2 separate regions of the Homo sapiens genome follow, and region 2 is linked to region 1. Evidence: fine-mapped expression QTL. Tissue or cell type: whole blood. Region 1 holds a variant in brackets; the other region holds the start of a gene. Each region is shown on its reference strand, or each on the opposite one.

What was found. PIP is the estimated chance that this variant, and not a neighbour inherited with it, causes the effect.
Region 2: H4C4 starts here. The variant in region 1 is fine-mapped to the expression of H4C4 in whole blood (TOPMed, PIP above 0.99).

The regions. Positions count from the first base shown.
Region 1 is chr11:108,166,829-108,172,079 of GRCh38, reverse strand. It overlaps NPAT (nuclear protein, coactivator of histone transcription), which reads left to right. Exons shown (of 18, transcript NM_002519.3): 14 at 2,037-2,152; 15 at 2,228-2,336. Among named protein-coding and RNA genes, the nearest start is that of ACAT1, 48 kb to the right of the region's middle. The variant C/A (reference allele first, on the strand shown) is at 2,323.
Region 2 is chr6:26,186,975-26,192,225 of GRCh38, reverse strand. H4C4 (H4 clustered histone 4) reads left to right here and starts at 3,114. Exons shown (of 1, transcript NM_003539.4): 1 at 3,114-3,516. The coding sequence starts at 3,150. The coding sequence ends at 3,461. RefSeq lists enhancers at 2,926-3,105, 3,888-4,513.

The sequences.
Region 1 (5,251 bases):
GAAATTTGTGATTACGCTGCTTCTTTATGCTAGCTAATTCAAACCTTTTTTATTTTTCTTAATCTGCTAGTAAGCTATGGGCTTTAGTGGTTTTTCTTTTTTCTTTTCACAAATACTTCTCAATCTATGTGCTAGTAAGTTACAATAAACAGAAAAGACAGACTAATTCATCACATAGTTGTATAAAACCCAATGTTGTGGGGGAGTTTTTAAAAATAGCTCTTATAGTCATGGTCTTCAGGGAATTCATCATCTTTTTGGAGAAATTTTCAAGAAAAACTTGAATTTCAGCCGGTTATGGTGGCTCACGCCTGTAATCCCAGCACTTTGGGAGGCCGAGGTGGGCCGATCGATCACCTGAGGTCAGGAGTTTGAGACCAGCCTCGAGAACATGGTGAAACCTCATTTCTACTAAAAATACAAAAAAATGAGCCAGGCATGGTGGCAGGTGCCTGTAATTACAGCTACTTGGGAGGCTGAGGCAGGAGAATCTCGTGAACCCAGGAGACAGAGGTTTCAGTGAGCCAAGATCATGCCATTGCACTTCAGCCTGGGCAACAAGAGCGAGACTCTGTCTCAAAAAAAAAAAAAAACTTGAATTTCTTCCTTTATAAAATCCTTTCTAATTGATCTCTGTCTTTAAAATCCTTTGTTTATGGCTGGGCTCAGTGGCTCATGACTGTAATCCCAGCACTTTGGGAGGCCGAGGCGGGCAGATCACCCGAGGTCAGGAGTTCAAGACCAGCCTGGCCAACATGGTGAAACCCCGTATCTACTAAAAATACAAAAATTGGCATGGTGGTGGGCACCTGTAATCCCAGCTGCTTGGGAGGCTGAGACAGAAGAATCTAAAGCTGGGAGGCAGAGGTTGCAGTGAGCCAAGATCGCACCACTGCACTTCAGCCTGGGTGACAGAGTAAGACTCTGTCTCCAAAAAAAAAAAAAAAAAAAAAAATCCTTTTTTCATAGGGGCTCTTGTGGCATTTATTGCGTGCTGTGTTATATGTAGTTAGTGATTGATATGCCTATCATATTGATAATTTTTTATTGTATGTTCCTCAGAGATAGTGCTCATGGCACATTTATTTACATTTCCTTATGTGTTGGTTCCCAAGCTTCCCTCTTTTCCCTTTTTGTTACATTATAGACATACAATAAAATTTCATTAAATATCAACAATTAGTATTAAACCTAATGGGTCTGTTTTACGTGCTGTTACAAATTACATAAAGGAGAGGTCAGAATTAATAGAGAATGTGGGGCTTGAGCTAAAGCTTAAAGAATGAAGGTAGGATTTGGAGTTAAAGCAAGGAAGTTTTTATAACTTATAAAATCTGTAAGTTATAAAGAGAAGCAGCACCAGCATAGACAGAGAGACCGTAGTAGGTTGCATGAAAATGAGGGGATCAACCTGACAGTAGTGTATTAGGCAAAAGTTTGTTTATGGACAGGACTAAATTACAGTAGCCACAAACTATGTTGTTGACTTCTGAGGACCATGTAGACATTGTAATTTTCCCTCCATAGTTTTGACCAGTTACGTGCTTACCTTACCCCCTTTTGATCAATACCATTGAGATATGTAATAGGTTGGGGTTACAAGTGTAGTCCTGGGTATAAATATTCAGTTGGGGTTGTAATTTTCTGGTGTAAGGTTCAGACTTGAAACATTCACCACTCATTTTCTAACTAGTTTCATTATTTCTAGAGGAATCCAGATATGATTGTAATATGATGTCTTGGCTGTAGAGTCTTATGCTTGATCAGCATGGTTCACTGACTGAATAACATTAAGACCACCTTAATATTTGGATTGACTTTTTCTTAATTTGTTAGCCTTGCTGTTTTTCCTAAAACTGTTTCAGTTTCGTTTTTTTTGTTTTGTTTTGTTTTGTTTTTGGAGAGTGGATCGTAAGGAAGAGGGATTGTTCATAGAATTTATTTCAAAGCAGTAATTAATTTGTGCCAAACATTTGTTTGTTTTGTGCCAAAACATTTCAGAGAAAATCTTTTTTTAACAAGAATTGTTTTTTTAGGATCTGCCATAATAATTGCCTCTCCAGTCCAGCCTGTACTCCAAGGAATGGTAGGGATGATCCCAGTATCTGTGGTTGGACAGAATGGAAATAACTTTTCTACTCCTCCTCGGCAGGTAAGATTTATGAACTGAAAATGGTGTGGTGATGCTTTTCAAGCTTAGTGTAATTAATGGCTTTTTCTCTTCCAGGTTCTTCATATGCCTTTGACAGCACCTGTATGCAATAGAAGTATCCCTCAATTCCCCGTCCCTCCAAAATCTCAGAAGGCTCAGGGACTAAGAAA[C/A]AAGCCTTGTATAGGTACCATTTTTAATTTCATTAATGTTAACTTTATGTTTGTATGTTCATTTGTTTGCAGCAACACCTAAATGTTTTCTTTCTGAATACCTAAACCATTTTAAAACAAGTGATCACCCTACATTTGCTAGTAACAGATGTCATAATGCAGCCAACTGTTACTGAACAGCTTTGGTTCTGAGAAAATTGTCTCCTTTGTTGAATCTGTTAGCTTTTGCCCAGTAGTCCTTGGTTTGTTCTTTGCAGCTTCCCTAAATTAAGTATAGTCCCTATTTTTCCCAACAGCTTTCAAGTGTTTAATGAATGCCTCGTATAATTGTATGAGACTTTAGAGCAGTTCTTCTTGTAGTTTAGTGTGTATATGAACTATTTGGGGATTTTGTTAAATGCAGGTACTGAATTGATAGGTCTGGTACAGCACCTGAAATTCCTCATTTCTAACAGCTTCTAAGCAATGCCAGTGCTGCTGGTACTGGACCACACTTGAAGCAAGGCTTTAAAGTTTGCAAATTACCTTCCTGTGTTCCCTGTTTTAGCCATTGTCCCAACCATCTGTTTACTTGTGAAAAACCTGGTAGTCACTCTTAAAACACATTTTCCTCTCCTTCTTAGTTCAAGTATTTGTCATTTTTCATCTAAGTTGTATCAATAGTGTCATGTAGTCTCCCTTCTTTTAGTCTCTGTTGTTTCAGTTCACCTCATATCTGCTGGCTGAGTGACTTTTTTTCCCTAAAATACAAATCTGAATATGTTGCTTTCCTGCCTAAAAACTTTCAGCAACTCCCCTTTGCCCAAAGGATAAAATTGAAATTTCTCAGGGTGACATATGTGCATACATTTGTCATCTAGTCACTCTCGACCTCTCCATCTCATCTCTTACCACTTCCCAGCATGGACCCTTTGTACAAACTATAGTTGCTGCTCACCTTATACTTGGTGATCTTTCTTGTCCCTGTACCTTTTACCAATGCTATCTCTTCTACCTAGAATTCCCCCTTCTTACCCAACTCTTACCCTCAATCTGGTTCTTATTTATCCTTCGAAATTAACTTAAATGTTCCTAGGAAGCATTTTTAACCAGCGGTGGCTGAGGTGGATATTCCGGTTTTATTTTTTTCTTTAATTCTTAGTGATACCTATGCTACAGCACTTAACACATTACATTGTATTTCTTCTCAGTAGTCTGAGTATCTTAAATGCACTCATTATACAGAGAACTCAACTAACTGCTATCAAATCAGCCTTTCCTTAAACTAAACAGTATACATCTATTGATGTAGGCTTAAGTTGCATTTTGACTTATTGAGGCACCCTCTTAGACTTATGTCCTGTTATAGCTACTCTATATTATTTTTATGTTCTTTCTTATAACTAGTTCATTCCTTTTAATGGCCATTTGATATCTATCACTTGCATAAATGTATTTTATATATGTCCTATCAGTGGACTTTTCAGATGTTTTCGATGTGACATGCAATGATATGAGGAACATCTTTGTAAATGCCTCTGTGTGAACCCATATGAGAGTTTCTTTGGGGGCTTATTCCCAGAAATCTTTGGGTATACTGGGTATAATAGAGAAGAAGTATATCTTCTCTATGACCCAGAATTTCTGAGTCATAGAGAAGAAAATTTATACTTCTACCATTATTTTCCCTGCTTCCCTCACAACACTACCAATATTTGATACCATGTGATATTTTAACTTTTGCCACTATGATGGATTTAAAGTGGTAGTATCTCATATCATTCTTTTACTTTATTCTGATTACTAATAAAGTTTGGAATCTTCTCTTATAACTATAAATAATATTTTCCCTTCTGTGAATTGCTTATTCATATCCTTTTCCTACTTCTCTATTAAATTTCCTGTCTGTTGAGGTGTTATACTTTTATTAGTAACATATCACAGATGTCTTCACAGTCTGACACTTGTTTTTATCCCTTACAAAGTTGATACCAGAAAAAAACATTGGTGAGGTTAAGCATCCATTTATGATAAAAGCTCTTAAAGGCTATCTATAGTAAACATCATGGGTTCCCTTTAAAGCTGTGAATAACACAAAGATACTCATTCCCACCCTGTATGTAATAAGCCAGTGTTTCCAACACCAGTAAATTAATTATTAAGTAATCAGTTTTTTGCCCCACTGACATCTGATTATACTTCCACCATAAACAAGGTCCCATACATCCATACATATGTGGTTCCAGACAATACAGTAAGAAAATGGAGCTGGGCATGGTGGCTCATCCCCATAATCCCAGCACCTTGGGAGGCTGAGGCAGGAGGATTGTTTGAGTCTAGGAGTTTGAGACCAGCCTGGGCAATATAGTGAGACCACATCTCTAGAAAATAAATTTTTTAAAAGTAGCCAGCTGTGGTGGCAGATAGTAGTCCCAACTATTCGGGAGGGTGAGGCAGAAGGATTGCTTAAGTCCAGGAGGTTGAGGCTGTAAGTAAGCCATGATCATGCCACTGCATTCCAGTCTGGGCAACAGTGAGACCCTGTCTCAGAAAAGAAAAGAGATAGGTGTAAAGATTTGAAGAGAGGGAATTAAACTGTTATGGAAAATGATGTGATTTTTACACAATAAAGCCACAGGGAGTTAATAGAAAAATTAATAGAACTAATAATTCAGTAAAGTTGCCAGGTATGGTTAATTAAAATTGTGTTTTAGGTGCCAACAATAAACACCTATTAAGTGTTATACAAAATAAGATACTGTTTATAATGACCACAAAAATGATAAAGTATAAAGGAAGTAACCTAACCAAAAATGTTAGAAATGGAGAATATTTGAAATCTTTCATAAAGGATGTATAAATAGAAGAGAACCATGTTCATAGATTTGAAAATTTAACAGTGTAAAGATTGCAATTATTCCAAGTTGAATCAAAAATTCAATGTAATTTT
Region 2 (5,251 bases), not on the chromosome of region 1:
CTTATTTATTTATTGAGATGGAGTCTCACTCTGTCGCCCAGGCTGGAGTGCAGTGGTGCAATCTTGGCTCACTGCAACCTCTGCCTTCCGGGTTCAAGTGATTCTTGTGCCTCAGCCTCCCATGTAGCTGGGATTACAAGAGCATGCCACCATGCCCAGCTAATGTTTGTATTTTTAGTAGTGTCAGGGTTTCTCCATGTTACCCAGGCTGCTCTTGAACTGGGCTCAAGTGATCCACCAGCCTTGGCTTCCCAAAGTGCTAGGATTACAGGCGTGAGCCACCGCACCCGGCCAGAATAATATTTATTTATTTATTTATTTTTGAGATGGAATTTCACTCGTCACCCAGGCTGGATTACAGTGACTTAATCTTGTCTCACTATAACTTCTGCCTCCCAGGTTCAAGCAATTCTCTTGCCTCAGTCTCCCAAGTAGCTGGGATTACAGGTATGCACCACCATTCCCAGCTAATTTTTGTATTTTTAGTAGAGACGCGGTTTCACCACGTTGCCAGGCTGGTCTCGACCTCTTGACCTCAGGTGATCCACCCACCTCGGCCTCCCAAAGTGCTGGGATGACAGGCATGAGCCACCATGCCCCGCGCAGAATAGTGGTTTTAAATGCATTAGATAATATATAGGAATGCAAAGTGAAACAATTATATTAGTATGCCATTATCAAATTATAAAAAATCTAAATTGGTGAAATATTAACATATGTGCTTTTAAATTTTTTATTTTATTTACTTACTGATTTTGAGACAGAGTCTCACTGTTGCCCAGGCTGGAGTGCAATGGTACGATCTTGGCTCAGTGCATCCTCTGCTTCTCAGGTTCAAGCGATTAGCTACCCAAGTAGCTGTGCGCCACCATGCCTGATAAATTTTTGCATTTTTAGTAGAGACATGGTTTTGCCATGTTGGCTAGACTGGTCTGGAACTCCTGGCCTCAAGTGATCCTCCCATCTGGGCCTTTCAAAGAGCTGGGAGTTACAGGCATAAGCCATGGCCTGGCATATGTCCTTTTTAAATTAATACATTAAATAATAATCTACCCATATGACTAAGACTTATTATAGTTTTGAAGGATTGAGGTTTTTTTTTGTTTTTTTGTTTTTTTTTTGAGATGGAGTCTTGCTGTTTTGCCCAGGCTGGAGTGCAGTGGCACGATCTCTGCTCACTGCAAGTTCCACCTCCCAGGTTCACGCCATTCTCCTGTCTCAACCTCCTGAGTAGCTGGGACTACAGGTGCCCGCCACCATGTCCGGCTAATTTTTTTGTATTTTTAGTAGAGATGGGGTTTCACTGTGTTAGCCAGGATTGTCTCCATCTCCTGACCTCGTGATCCTCCCGCCTTTGCCTCCCAAAGTGCTGGGATTACAGGCGTGAGCCACTGCACCCGGCTTTAGGATTGAGATTTTTAAATGAAATTTCGAGATATTGGCAATGAGAATGTGATATAAATAGAAGCACTTGTCCTGCCAATTACACTGTTTGTTGCCTGAGTTCATACACAGAAAAAATGCTGTTTCTGTTGGAGAATAGTAAAAAGAAAAAAAAAAGATTTGACTTTTTTTTTTTCTATACTCATTCCCAGATCCCCTGAAGACTTTCTATGTATCCCAGGCTAAGAACCTTACTCTGCAATCTTTTCCATGTACCATAAACTCAATAAACAGCAAACAGCTGTGATAAACTTGGTTCTTCTCACAAGTCATGAAGGAAAAGCCAAATATTCCACCCAAAGGACCTGGAACTTTTTATGGGGATTAATGATGAGTTAAGTTTTTAATTATTTATTATTTTGAGGAGTTCTCGAAATCAGATTTTAGCAAATTAGAATACTGTCTCTCATCCCTTTAGAAGGGTGAACCTTAAGGATAGGAATTGAAAACACCCACAATATTGTACTATACCATAATTAATGTTTAGTCATTGCTTATTTGGAATCTAGACACTATTCTAAGCATTTTGATAGGATTATCTGTTTCAACTTAACAAATACTTACAAGTTAGATTTTTAAAAATACATTTACAACAAGGAAACTTAGTATAGCTTGCCCAGGGTCACCCCCACAGCATGTATGTCAAGCAGGCTGTCTCTATGATAGTTTGGAGGGATACTATGATGCCAATTTGCTGGAGTAATAGAATATGGTGAATGATGCAGTGCTAGCTACAATCTGTCCATGATTAAAGGCACAATCAAAGCATAAATTTTCATAAATTTCAGCCCAACAAGGTTTTCTTTTACGGGTGTACATAGTCATGTTTTCAATCGGCCCTCGGTGATCTTATCCTAATTTGACCTCTAAATGTGTAACTTTCATATACTTTTAGTTCCCTCAGTAGCACTATCTAGCCTGCATGCCAAAGAGCCCTGCTTGGTTAACTAGGAATGCATAAATCAATAAAAATAATCTCAGAGACAATAAAGATATGAGTTACTTAAAATACTTTGAAAGCACCTTATGGCCCGGCGCGGTGGCTCACGCCTGTAATCCTAGCACTTTGGGAGGCCGAGGCAGGTGGATCACAAGGTCAGGAGTTCGAGACCATCCTGGCCTATGGTGAAACCCCGTCTCTACTAAAAAAATACCAAAATTAGCTGGGCATGGTGGCGGGCGCCTGTAACCCCAGCTACTCGGGAGGCTGAGGCAGGAGAATTGCTTGAATCCGGGAGGCAGAGGATGCAGTGAGCCTAGATCGTGCCACTGCATTCCAGCCTGGGCAACAGAGCAAGAACCCGTCTCAAAAAAAAAAAAAAAAAAAAAAAAAAAAAGCACCCTGTGAGGGAAACAGTACTAATTATTTGATATTCTGGGAAAAGTGGGGGACAATTGTCAGGCTTCTTTGTCGAAAGTTTATGAACTGATGGCTCAGTTAATGGCTGCAAGTATAGTGTGTGTGTATATATATATATATACCTAGCAGTATTTATTAAATCCCAGCTGAGGCTCTTTTGTTGCCTCAGGCCCCTCTTGGTCTCCTCCAGTCTGAGCAAGGGAGAATTGCACAGAAGGGCGGGAACTGACTGTGGTTCCCGCCCCTTCTCATGAGGTTTTCAAACAGGTCCGTCATGCTATTATAAAAGTGCTGCGTGGCTCTGCCAGACGTATTGCGTTACAGATTTAACAGCTGTGGTTTCAAGATGTCTGGCCGCGGTAAGGGCGGAAAGGGTCTAGGTAAGGGTGGCGCCAAGCGTCACCGTAAGGTATTGCGTGACAATATCCAAGGAATCACCAAGCCCGCTATCCGCCGCCTGGCTCGCCGCGGCGGCGTCAAGCGTATTTCTGGCCTCATTTATGAGGAAACTCGCGGAGTGCTGAAAGTTTTCCTGGAAAATGTAATCCGCGATGCTGTCACCTACACGGAACACGCCAAACGCAAGACAGTCACAGCCATGGACGTGGTGTACGCGCTCAAGCGCCAGGGACGCACTCTTTATGGCTTCGGCGGCTGAGCTTACCTCTACAGTACACTACCGCAAAACCAACGGCCCTTTTCAGGGCCACCTATCCACTCAGGAGAAAGAGTAGTAGTCACTGCTAAAAGTGTAGTTTCACGTGTTTAGTAGCTCCGGTTTTCAAGTTAAATGGTCTTATTACGCCTTGGCTTCATATCTTACTGGCCGGTGAGGATAGTGTATTAAAGTTTATTTTCACTCTTGCTGTGTCGCCCATGCTGGAGTAATCAATGGCGCGATCTCGGCAATCTGCAGTCTCCGCCTCCCGGGTTCAAACGATTCTTGTGCCTCAGCCTCTTGCGTAGCTGGGGCAACCGGCTTGCGCCACCAACACCCGGCTAATCTTTGTATTTTTTGCAGCGATGGGTTTTCGCCATGTTTCCCAGGCTGGTCTTGAACTCAAGCTCAAAAGAGATTTCCCTCCTCCGCCTCCGAAAGTGCTGGGATTACAGGCGTGAGCCACCACGCTTGGCCTGTGTTTTCTGTATTTCTGTAAGGAAACATGGCAAACTGCTGCTAACATTCTTCATGGCTATCAGAGAAACAAGGTAGCAAAGACTGTAGCTGCTGGAGAAACAAGGTAGCAAAACCTGTATCTCAGAAGGCAAGTGGTAAAGGCTGATGCTGCCGTGAAGAATAGTGAAAAAAATGGAGGTAGTTACTAGTTCCTACCAAGGCATTGTTATATGAAAGGAAGACAAAATGGCATTCAGATGGTTATTGGTGTGGGGGGATGGGAGGTGTGTTGGAGGCACTTGACTGGCAAATACATTCTTTAAAGAAGAAAGTAGTAATTACCGTGGGAGAAACAACCATGAAAGTACATAAGATTCAACATTTTTTAGTGGAATGGGGAGAGGCCAACTTGTTTGGTTCTGTTCCTCTGAGCTGCCTTCCATCCAGATCTACTGATTTTCTATTGTTGAATTTAAAAGGACTTTTTATTTATGTACCCGTGGCCAATTTAAAGGTATGTTGAACGAGTTCTTTTTTTGTTGTCCTTTTATCTTAAATAGTCTTAGACTTTATTATTAACAGAAGTCATTTTACCTTAAATCATAGATCAGGTTACTGTGGTTGCATGAATGGGTGTTTAAAACCGAGGTTGTCATGATTAAATTCCCACCTTCTTTCCCTTTACACCTCAGGAAATGAGACAAAAATAAGTAAGCCATTCCCTAGTGGGTTACTCCAGTCCTTACAATCGCAGGACTATCAGTATGCCACTGTATTATTCGCTGTCCTCAAAATGGATTTTAATTTGTGGAGAATATTGAGTAAACCCTTATTTTTCCAATAAAGTTTTTTCACTTTATCATAATAAAAAGAAAGCTGGACAGGTGGCTATCTAGCAAGAGACAACATTTCCTGGTCTTTCTGGGAGCAGATGTAAGCATGTGGCTACATTATTTCCAACACAGGTGAGACACATAGAAAAGTTACTACCAGGTCTGGGCTTTGAAACTTCCATGTTACCTTCTTCCCCAAGTATAATGGTATTGATTTCATTTTGAGCAATTAGAGAACATCAGGCCCTAGGAGATGACAGAACATTGACTTGGAAGGAACGAAATTTCCTGATTGATCACAAGGAGCAGAGCTGCTTCACAAAGCTGGACTAATCACAATGGATTTGTTCCATGAAACAAAAATATCTGTCTTTAAGCTTATTTATTGTTGAGTCTCTTTGTAAGCAGCATAACTTTATCACACAAAATTCAGTTTTGTTACTAAACTTATTTAGTATTGTGGAATGTCCTTCCATTGACCTGAAAGCTCTTTACAGA